Linked DNA regions of Homo sapiens. The protein of the gene in region 2 interacts with the protein of the main gene of each other region in a pairwise test. Each region holds a gene or a part of one and is shown on either strand. Other genes may lie near its edges. The genes, in order: CTNNA3 and MPHOSPH10.

What was found.
Region 1: the proteins of MPHOSPH10 (region 2) and CTNNA3 interact in binary tests that used the Homo sapiens proteins (3 or more experiments, as listed by UniProt).

Annotation. Positions count from the first base shown.
Region 1 is NC_000010.11:65,915,052-65,922,360, forward strand, and holds part of CTNNA3 (catenin alpha-3), read right to left. Parts: intron 5,567-7,309; coding exon 5,279-5,566; 3' UTR 1-5,278. UniProt on the Homo sapiens protein: May be involved in formation of stretch-resistant cell-cell adhesion complexes.
Region 2 is NC_000002.12:71,147,480-71,150,756, forward strand, and holds the end of MPHOSPH10 (U3 small nucleolar ribonucleoprotein protein MPP10), read left to right. Parts: intron 1-519; coding exon 520-627; intron 628-1,743; coding exon 1,744-1,974; intron 1,975-2,386; coding exon 2,387-2,536; 3' UTR 2,537-2,622; downstream 2,623-3,277. UniProt on the Homo sapiens protein: Component of the 60-80S U3 small nucleolar ribonucleoprotein (U3 snoRNP). Required for the early cleavages during pre-18S ribosomal RNA processing. Part of the small subunit (SSU) processome, first precursor of the small eukaryotic ribosomal subunit.

The DNA.
Region 1 (7,309 bases), on a different chromosome or scaffold from region 2:
GGCAAGGATCACTATTTGTTTTGTTATATGGTGTATCCTAAGAACCTAGAACAGTGCCTGGAACATCACAGTTGTTTAACAAATAGCTGTTAAATATATGAACGTATGGTAACCCAGATTGGCTCTAATATTGGGAAGAATTTCACCTACCATCAGTCAGGAGAATGGCTGAATTTCTGTTTCTCAACTTGCAAACAATATTACTAAATCATGCTCAAAATATGTGTAGTTCATCCTTTTGCCTTCGACACGACTTCACCAAACCACCAAGACAAGTGTCTCATTCTATCCTTAATACTTTCCTCAGGAGGGCTGCCTAATCTTCATAAAACCAAAAAACTCTCCCCTCATCTATGAAAGCTAAATGCTTCTGCAACTACCCCTCTCAGACCCTTCCCTACCTCTGGCACCTTCTTATTTGTTGTGCCTTTAGACTACTCCGTATCGTCTCCATTTTTCTCCAACTTACCAAACTCATATTGAATATCAATCCATGTGTTTTGTTCCCACAAACCAGTGGGGACTGCTAGATGCCATAATGCAGCCAGCAGCCATAAAGCATCTCGTCTCAGAATAAAACTTATGGTCGGCCCCACAGCCCATCTCTTGCCTGCGGATGGGATTCTGGTCAGGTTGAGTTCCATTTGGAGACAGCTCTCTCAATTAACATTACTTTCTTTTAGAGTGTCCAGAAATGGATTCTATCTTGTCTGTTAGGGGGAAAATATTCACATGCAAGAAGACTAGTGTTTTAAACTATTCTTTATTTTGCTTTAATAGAATATATGTTTTTGTTCATATGAATTGGTTAAAAATGCCAAAAAGGTATTTAAAATTTTACTTCTTCTCTTTCTCTTTGAGATGACTAAGATAGCGTTAGTAGCCTCATTCAAAACATTTTTAACTACAACTAGTTTTAATAGCATCCATGTTTTCTTTCCTAATTAAAACCAAAATGCCAAAATAAAAACTCTCAAACTGCTATTGTTATTAGTCCTGGCTTATTTGTTTAGTGGTAAAATGGAAAATACTAATGCTGAACATATCATAATGGTATGGGAAAAGAGTCATAAAGAAAAAAATGGAATTTTCATATAAATAAAAACAGTAACATCTCAGGTGGCAGAAATTTTCCTACTTTACTTAAAAAGAATTATTAAAATAATATAAAATTATATTCTTTTTAACTGAAATATTTCTGGCTTTACAAACAGAAAAAATGAATATTTGATTCCTAAATATACAATAGGCAGGCTGTCTTGGCAAAAAATAGGCCAACAAAAGAAAGTACAGATTTCATTCAAATTCAGATTCTGGTGCCTGCTTTGCCAACCTAAAGAACTACTTACAATGAAAGTGAAAGAGGCTGTTTATTCTGCAATGAGTTCACAAGAGAATGGTGGATATCACCAGGAAAAGTCTCAGATCTTATTCCACTCATACTACCACTATACAAAAATCTGTAGCCATGGGAACCACAATCTCTAGGACAGAAATGAACATTTGATACCAAAATTTAAGAATGTTTTGGGGAATAGAAAGACTAAAGGAATAATGTTGCTGGAAATTAAAATTCATAATTTTGACTAAAACTCTGTAAAATTTATTAGTCAATTTATACCTGGGATAGAGATGAGAGACAGGAGAGAGATATTTTTGGTTCACAGAAGAGGAAAGGGCATTAATTGGAGTAATTTGCTGTGATGGGCAGTCCTGATTGCACTATTTTGGTAGGAAATTGTTAGCAATTAACAGAGGATACCTAGCCCAGAGGTGGGTGAGATGAGAACACCCTCAAAATGAAGGTTCAGGAAGCCGTTGAAGTCACTTACTCTGTTGTTACACATTAGGCTTTTCAGCCACTCATTATTTAATTTGAGGAGCATTAATTATTTGGTCTGAAGGCCCAAGTTGCGCACTTAATTGTATATTCACAATTTTAGCTTGAAATTGAAACCGACTGCCTTTGAAGCTAAAGGTGTTAAGAATGCCAGACTGCAAGAATGGGTGTCTCTGTGTAGCTATGGAGGACCTTATTCCCTGTACATAAGAGATTTTTATGGGGAACAAATATGTTATATTGATCTTATGTTAAAAGATTTCAAAGGCCAGAAGGCACACTTGTGAATGTGAAGGCTATATTGTCTTTTCTAATACATTTGCAATTTGCACTCATATAATAAATAATAAACAGAAAGGAATAATGAACAAATTAGCTTAGAAATTTAGTGTTTGAGTTTTTTCTTGACTCATTCAAGAACTATCCAGAAACTGACTTAGAAACATTTTACTTCAATAATTTTAATTTGTCATAAATTAAAGGGAATGATTTCTATTTCTCACTTTTTATATTTGATAGAAATCTTCAAATTTCTCTAATTAGAAGGCCATTTAGTGGATTATTATTTCGTTTTTTTTTAAATTTTCATTCTAATTCCAGTCTAACATCTGGCAGGGATACTGGTGGGTAACCAGGGATGGAACTGCTCCTGTGGGTGGTAAACACCCCTCTCCTCCCTCTCAAGGAACGTTTTTCCCTATGTAAATTAACACAAATTGATTTCGTTAAAAAGAAAGGTGAGTTCTTATTAGCAGGATCAAGCAAATGTATTATCAGAGGAAGCACTAATCTCTGTGATGAGACATCAAAAGGTACATAGGTGGATCACCAAATTATCACTCTCATTAAGAAATTTCTGGCAATCCTCTGCAGAAGAAATACCTAAATATAAATGTGTCATGCTGATTAGTTTTTAACATAATGGGGAGATTTATTCATATCTTGCTGCTAGTTTTTCTTGCATATAAGCATTTGTTTTATCAGCAGGTTTGAATCAAACTAAATCTTGAAATGCTGCCTACTACAGGAATTCACTCAGGTGGACAGATGCCTTTTTCAGCTCTATGCATCTTGTTTTTATGTCACTATCGATTACCACAGCAGATTAACTCCTAGGATATTCATTGAGTTAAAATTTTTATTGTTTTATTTAATTATAGTTTGCTTTGAGCTAAGCTGAAAATCTGCCTGGGTTAAAGAGGAGAACTTGTTCACATCTCACTTTGGGTAAAAAGTCATTTTTATCAAAGAGATGGAGGTTATTTGGTAATTGTATAATTTCAAGTTATTTCTGTTCTTTTGGTGTCCAATACTGCATGTTCTAAACTCCAACATGTGGAAAGATGATGTTGGGTCCGGTGGACATTAGATTTTCTAAATGAGATGCTTATGATTCTTGTGAATGTGGCTTTAGGAGCTAAGATACACAACTGCTAGTTTGGTGATTTCAAAAAAATTTTCTATACAGCTGGTAGTTTGGTGATTAAAAGAAAATTCCTCTCCCCACTAAATTATAAATTTATACTTCTATCTGGAAGAAGGATATACCACAGATGTCACTCGTGCAACATCTACACTTAGAGCAGAAAATGATGGCAGCATTTCAATAAAAGAAAATCTCTATTTGCCTCAATCATCTAGATAATTCTGAAAAACAGAGTCATCTGAATTCCCTAATTCCCTTCTTCACTGCCTTTTCTTCTGGGCAGTGCATTCTGTTCAGAATAGTTATTGTAGGCCAGTCTATGGTGCAAAACAGGGAGGAGTTTATTGCCTTCACCTCCTAGGAAGTTTTACACTGAGCTCAGGCAATCCAGCTACTTGGAAGATTGAAATAATTCATTACAAGAAATTTAACATTTCCTGCATAATTAATAATGACCTATTAAATAGATCCTTCTTTTCCCATACCATTATGCTTAAGATTCCACACATATCGTACTGTCAATCTTTATGCTTTTCTATGTTTCATGCATCCTTTTACCCAAACTGGTTCTCCTAATATCAACTGGTATTGTATGTGTAAATTTTTTTCTCATCAATCTAAGGTTACATCGTTGCTGAGACGCCTCTCATCAATGGCAATGTTTTAGAAGTAAAAAGGTACAATATAATACTATTATGATAATGTAGAATAGAAAATGTTTTTTAAAGTCTGTGAATCAGAACTCTATGAATGAGAAAAAATGAAAACAAAACTTATGGCCTCCAAAGAGTTTCTGTTAAGGACATTTTTGAAAGACAGAGAGAGGCAGGTCATCAGGGGAGAGAAAAAGAGAGAGAGAATGACAGAGAGAGGTACACTAGACTCTAAGACTATTATGAAGTCCATTATGAACTCAACTAGGAATGAACACAGTGACTGGAGTTGTAAAATGACCCCAGTGACTTTTATTTAAAAGAACGTTATTAAAATCACTCCAGCTTCATTGCCATTAACTGCTTCATAGTTCAATGGTACAGTTCATGCAGTTATATTTTACTCAACGTCAAAAGATTTTTCAAACTGCCATTTTCCTTTTAATTACAATTGCAAGCTGATAAAAATGTATTTTTATGTTTGTAAAAATAGGGTCATACAGAACTTACACTTCTGTTATTATTAATATAACTCACTTTGGGATATAGTTTGTTGTCTCATTTTCCCAATGGGTGATAACTCTTCTTTCACATATGTATTCGGATAGGCCTAACACTCAAAAGTACAGAACTCTCTAACACATTGGAAACCCAAAAGGTGAGTATGTGGCATCAGAACTCATTGTAACCTTTATAATGTTAAGAAAGCATTTTATTAATAAACAAGGTTGACCTTCAAAATCCAGCAAGTAGCCTAACTATTCAAATTTGATTAGTTTATAATGGATATTAGCCTAATAAGTTGACAATGAGTACAGCTATCTAGAGATTAAAAGGTGGTTTTTTTGCTATGGCAGGAATCATACATTTCTGCCTGGTTAGGTGCCAGGTTAGATCAGATAAAGAAAGCATGGAGATTAAATGGGAAAATATTTTATAAAAGTCTTTTGTTTCTATTAAAAAACCAAGTTAGGAGCTCATGTTAGTGTTTTAATTCAAGATAAGGATGATAAGTGTACATGAAGTATTACAGATAAACAGGACTCTCTGGCCTCTCCTGTGTTTATTTGGTAACGAATAGTAGATAATCTCTATGATGGGAAACGCTGAATGACACGTGATAATTTCATTCATTCAACAAGCAAATATTCCTTAACTATTAGGTGCTGACCATACAGAAATGACAGTGATATGATCCCAAATATATATTGCTTTTGTTGATTTAGCGCCCAATATTTTATGTTATTTGTGAGTTAAACACCAAAACTTAGTGAAATTACAGAACTTCTTAAGTGTAAAATAAAGCAGTGTGGTTAGGCAGGATTTTGTCATATAGGCACTATATGTAGAATAGTGGTTTCAGTAGATTTGTCTTCCTCTAAATTCACTCATGACTTGCAATGGATGGATTTTTTTCTTTGCTGAGCCTCGTCTGACAGCTGCACACGTTTCCTCTGGCTTCTCTCTTTTAATCAAGGGTTTTTTTGCAGGAGCCTTCATTCTCCACATCACAACTGGGTGCCGGGGCCCAGCAGGACTCTGGATTCGGATGATCTTGGTTGAGGCAATGTAAGACATTTTCACTGTTTGCACTACAGCATTCATTAAATTTTTGGCTGCTTGGATCAGGGATGTGACACTGTCCAACTGTAGGGAAAAAAGAGAAAAAAGAGCTATTATTCCAGGAGGTTTTGTTAATTATTGCCAAGCGTGGGCATGGTGGCATGTGCCCGTTGCCCCAGCTACTCAGGAGGCTGAGGAGGGAGGATCACTTGAGCCCAGGAGGCAAAGGTTGCAGTGAGCCAAGATGGCGTCACTGCACCGCAGCCTGGGTGACAGTGAAACCCCATATAAAAAAATAAATAAATAATAAAAATAAAAATAACTGAGCCTGATAGTCTATTAATGTCACAATAAGCTGCTCAATATTGTCTATGCCCAAACATAAATCAATAAGTTCTGCCTCATTTTTTTGTATCTAGATGGATAAGTGATTATGTTCAATTAACTCTTATGCTAATTATGTAATGTGTTTTGCAAATAACCCTAATACGCCAATTTAAATAGAATCCTGTTAAATATTATCCTGTATAAATCTTACTTTTATTATAGTGTCTCTTCTGTGCTTTGTGGTATTATATGGTTTCAGTTTAACAACGGTACAAATTGGACCAATTCTACAAATGTTTACGGATAAAGGACTTGCTCTTAAAAACATATCAATAGCCATTTACTACAAAAAGGTGGAGTTTAGCAACAATAAAATACATTTTCTGTTTCCTCATAAAATGTTAACATTTCGTCCATGTAAGTAGTTTGTATAGAATACCTGGATCTTTTCTCAAAAACACTAAATACCTATAAATCCTTGACAACTATGTCAATTTGGAATGTCTGCTAGCAAACCCTTGCCAAAACCCTATTGTAATTAGTGATAGCTAAGAGGAATATTCAAAAAGACATGGTACATATTCCTTCTCTTGCTTTTGGAAGTTTCTCACAGAGATTGTGTCAAAACACTAGAATGCTTTCTACTCGTAGGACACTAGTCTAACTCCCTATAGTTTGGATTCAAGACTGTTACCAGACATACGCCTTACATGAGGATTCTAAGCCTACGTGAACCTCACTTCCACTGGTGTGGATCTCACTTTCTTGCACCTGGTCTGTCACCTGGGAAAGCAGCTTCCCAATCACAGGGCAGTGTGAACTGCCATGCCAACTGCTTCTTCTGAGACTCCTGCTGAGAGAAAAACCTGATGCTGCTTGGAAAGATATATGGTCTGTCCAGTAACCTTTTTGGTAAATTGGTACCAAATGTAGCCTATGATCTTGAGTCTCAAGGTGTACCTGAATTCAAAGACCCCTGTTGGATGTTGGTCCTGCACAAAAGCAATTTTTGAAAGACAAATGTCAAGAGTTTGGTTCCAAGTGTCAGAAGAGCTTAAAATAATTGCTAATATCTATTATATGCTGTAGTATGCAGTTGACATAAAGTAACTCATAGCAACCCTATGAGGTAAGTACTCTTATTATCTTCATTTTATGGATGAAGAAACAAAGGAACTGGAAGGTCTGGTGACTTGCTCAAAGTAACACAGATATTAGATAGTAGGGCTGGAACTGGAACCAAGTAAGTCTGGTTCTACCTTGCGTTTTTTCTCATTACATAAACCTGCCTCCAAGAATATCCTACTTCCAATATGTGATTATTTTTCGATATCAAATAGTTAAATAAATTATACTAACCTTAACAGAGTGTCTAAAATTTTAAAGTTGACTAGCCAGCAACTCTGCTTTTAAGAAGCTTGCTCTTATTTTTGTAATGCATGTTGCTACCAGGAGCAATAGAGTATCTTATTTGCCAATGCATTTTGTTAGGATTGTGGT
Region 2 (3,277 bases):
TGGCTAACACGGTGAAACCCCATCTCTACTAAAAATACAAAAAATTAGCCAGGTGTGATGGCAGGCGCCTGTAGTCCCAGCTACTCGGGAGGCTGAGGCAGGAGAATGGCATGAACCCTTAAGAGGGAGCTTGCAGTGAGCCGAGATAGCGCCAGTGCACTCCAGCCTGGGCAACAGAGCAAGGCTCTGTCTCAAAAGAAAAAAAAAAAGAAAAAGAAATACATGCTGTTGGAATGGTTTTGAGACAGAAAACCCTAAAATACCCAGGTCTCTGGGATCCTGAAGCAGTGCTGCCCCTCAGCACTGCCGTCATGCCAGTCCACTTAGGACTTTGGCTGTCACCATATCTAACATTTTAAATAGTCTCCATTAGGTTTGCTGACTTTCAAGCAAGTGAAAAAAAGATAATCTCCATAAAGTATTTTATATATTATACTTTAAGTTAATAGGTTCACAGTTCACACATTTTGTGTTAGAGTCCCTTCTGGCTTCCCATTGAATGTATTATCTCTTTTCTAGCCTGTACCAGAGATTAAAGTTGTGTCAAATCTGCCAGCCATAACCATGGAGGAAGTAGCCCCAGTGAGTGTTAGTGATGCAGCTCTCCTGGCCCCAGAGGAGATCAAGGTAAGAAGCCAATGTTGAAACCTTAAATGTCTGTTACAAGTTAGTTGATCATAGCCAGACTCCATTTATTTGACGTCATTTGCCTTGCACTTGTAGTTCTTATTCCAATGTATCTCAGCAGTTTCTAAGTATAAGCAAACTAGTAATGTTATAATATTCAAATACCAGTCTCCTATATTCTGGCTTTATTATGAGGTACAGGTTTGAGAGTTACTGTAAGAGCAGTTTTAAAATAGCTAGTATCAATATCTTATTATAATCCAATCTGAATACTAGCAGTGATGTTAAGTTGAAAACAAATGGCTTGCATTGCATATATACTAGCAATAGTTTAGTGTCAGCATTTCCCCCTTATTTTATTCATGTAATGCTAATTAGTAATGGAATCTGAATCTAGAATCGAGCATTTGGTTATCAGAAGAGGCTAGATATATCAAATGCAGCAATCCCTGCCATGTGAACATTGAAGCTTATGCCTTACACAGTAATAATGGTTTCTGCCAGGTGCTCATCTTCCTGGCTGGCTTAGCAGCAGGGCCTTCTTTTTCCCTCCTCACTTGATTTGCTACACCTACACTCACCCCTTCTGTCTGAGCCTCTGCCACCTCAGTGCAGGTGACAGCCCTGGCAGGATAGGCTGGCAGCTGAGGAGAAAAGAGATAGAATTGATCCTCACTAGAGAGATGTTTCCCTTCCCTTCCTCTGTTCCTTGGTCTCTGCCCTCTGGCCTCAGTCCAGTTGCTGTCATTAGCAGCTCAGAGCTGAGGCTGCCTCTGGCATGTCCCTGAAGCCCATTGGAATCTAAATGCTGTGGAGGGCTGGCTCCTCTTGTGCTGTTAGGTTGAGAACCCAACTCTCCATGTTGCCTTCTTGTGAATTAGTTTGGGAACTGAACCGTCACTATAAGAGTCTGTGCCTGTCAAAGAATGCATTTCAGGTTTTAAAGAGCTGAGTTACCAACGCTCATTGGAATGCAGGTGGGGATTGCTCTGCATCTTTGTGCATTTGGCCACAGATGCACAGCCTGCTTGCTGGCTACCCTGCAGTTTCTTCCATTCCAGTTTCCTAGTTGTTAAACTTGATGAATGAATATGTTGGTGGTTATTTTTTTAATAGGAGAAAAATAAAGCTGGAGATATAAAAACAGCTGCTGAAAAAACAGCTACAGACAAGAAACGAGAGCGAAGGAAAAAGAAATATCAAAAGCGTATGAAAATAAAAGAGAAGGAGAAGCGGAGAAAACTGCTTGAAAAGAGCAGTGTAGATCAAGCAGGGAAATACAGCAAAACAGTAGCTTCGGAGAAGTTAAAACAGCTGACCAAAACTGGCAAAGCTTCCTTCATAAAGGTAAGGACAAGGGAAAGAAAACTGCTCAAGGGGACCTTTGTGGGGGAAGTGGATAGCAAGTGCTGGGTGACTGGAATGTCTGAGCCAGCTGACAGCCCACCTGCGGGATAGAGATGCATGATGCTGACTGGCTGGAATCGCAACCTTTAATGTTCTAGAATTTTTCATGTAGGGTCCTCACAATAACCTGGGTCCTGGCAGCAGCTTGTCTTCCACTCCTTTCTCTCTTAGATTATAAGAACATTGTAGCAGTGCAGAATACCTCTATGCTAACTGATTCAGTTTTCTGTAATTCTAGTCCTTTTTCATATTTATGGTTGCATACATTGTTGTAATGGTGATGTACTATTTTTGGCTTTTTTCACTTATAAGTACATTTTACAGCATAAGCATGTGGTGTTTTTAATTGCAGGATGAAGGTAAAGACAAGGCCTTAAAGTCCTCTCAAGCATTCTTTTCTAAATTACAAGATCAAGTAAAAATGCAAATCAATGATGCAAAGAAAACAGAAAAGAAAAAGAAGAAAAGACAGGATATTTCTGTTCATAAATTAAAGCTGTAATATATTTTGAATATAATGTAAATATTAATGTGTAAGCTTATATTGTGTCATTGTTCTGTTTTATAATAAAATTCTTGAGAACCTTCCTTTGCATCGATGACAGATATTTGAGGGTTCCATAGTGTGAAAAGACAAACCCCTAACCATTTGCAAAGCCCTTCCGGTTTTCACTGGTATGAAGCAGGACCTGGCTCCTCCCCAGGCCCTTCCTGTTCAGGCACTGCCTGAGCTGATCCTGCTGTGCTCTTGCCGTGGCCCAGGCCTGTGTGAAGGCCAGGCCAGCTTGTCCACATGGGCTGGTGAGCAAGCACTGGCCTGCAGGCTGTGAAGAGGACAGAGCCAGCCAACCCCCTCACAAGCAGCTGTCTACAGCAGAGGTCCTCACTCTTTGGGCTCTTGATTTCCTTCTCCCATTGCCCTGTCATTTCATAAAACAGTAGCATTTTCATGCCTGTGCCTTCCTTCCCCTTTGGGAAATGATCTCATGTCATCTGAACAAAGGTTTAATGTAGGCTGTAGAGCACTATCCACAATCAGCTGCAGAGGACAGGTATGATGGAGAAGTGAATCTAGAAGCAACAGAAGCTCCATACAGCCAGTAATGTAAACTGCAGTCTGCAGAGTGTTCTGTGACCACCAGGTGCTCATTGTTTCAACCTCCCCATCCAGGGAAAAATGCCTTTTGTCTGATAGGCTCTCATACTGATTTGATGGAAATGCAGTAAGCCTTAGTCCAGATGG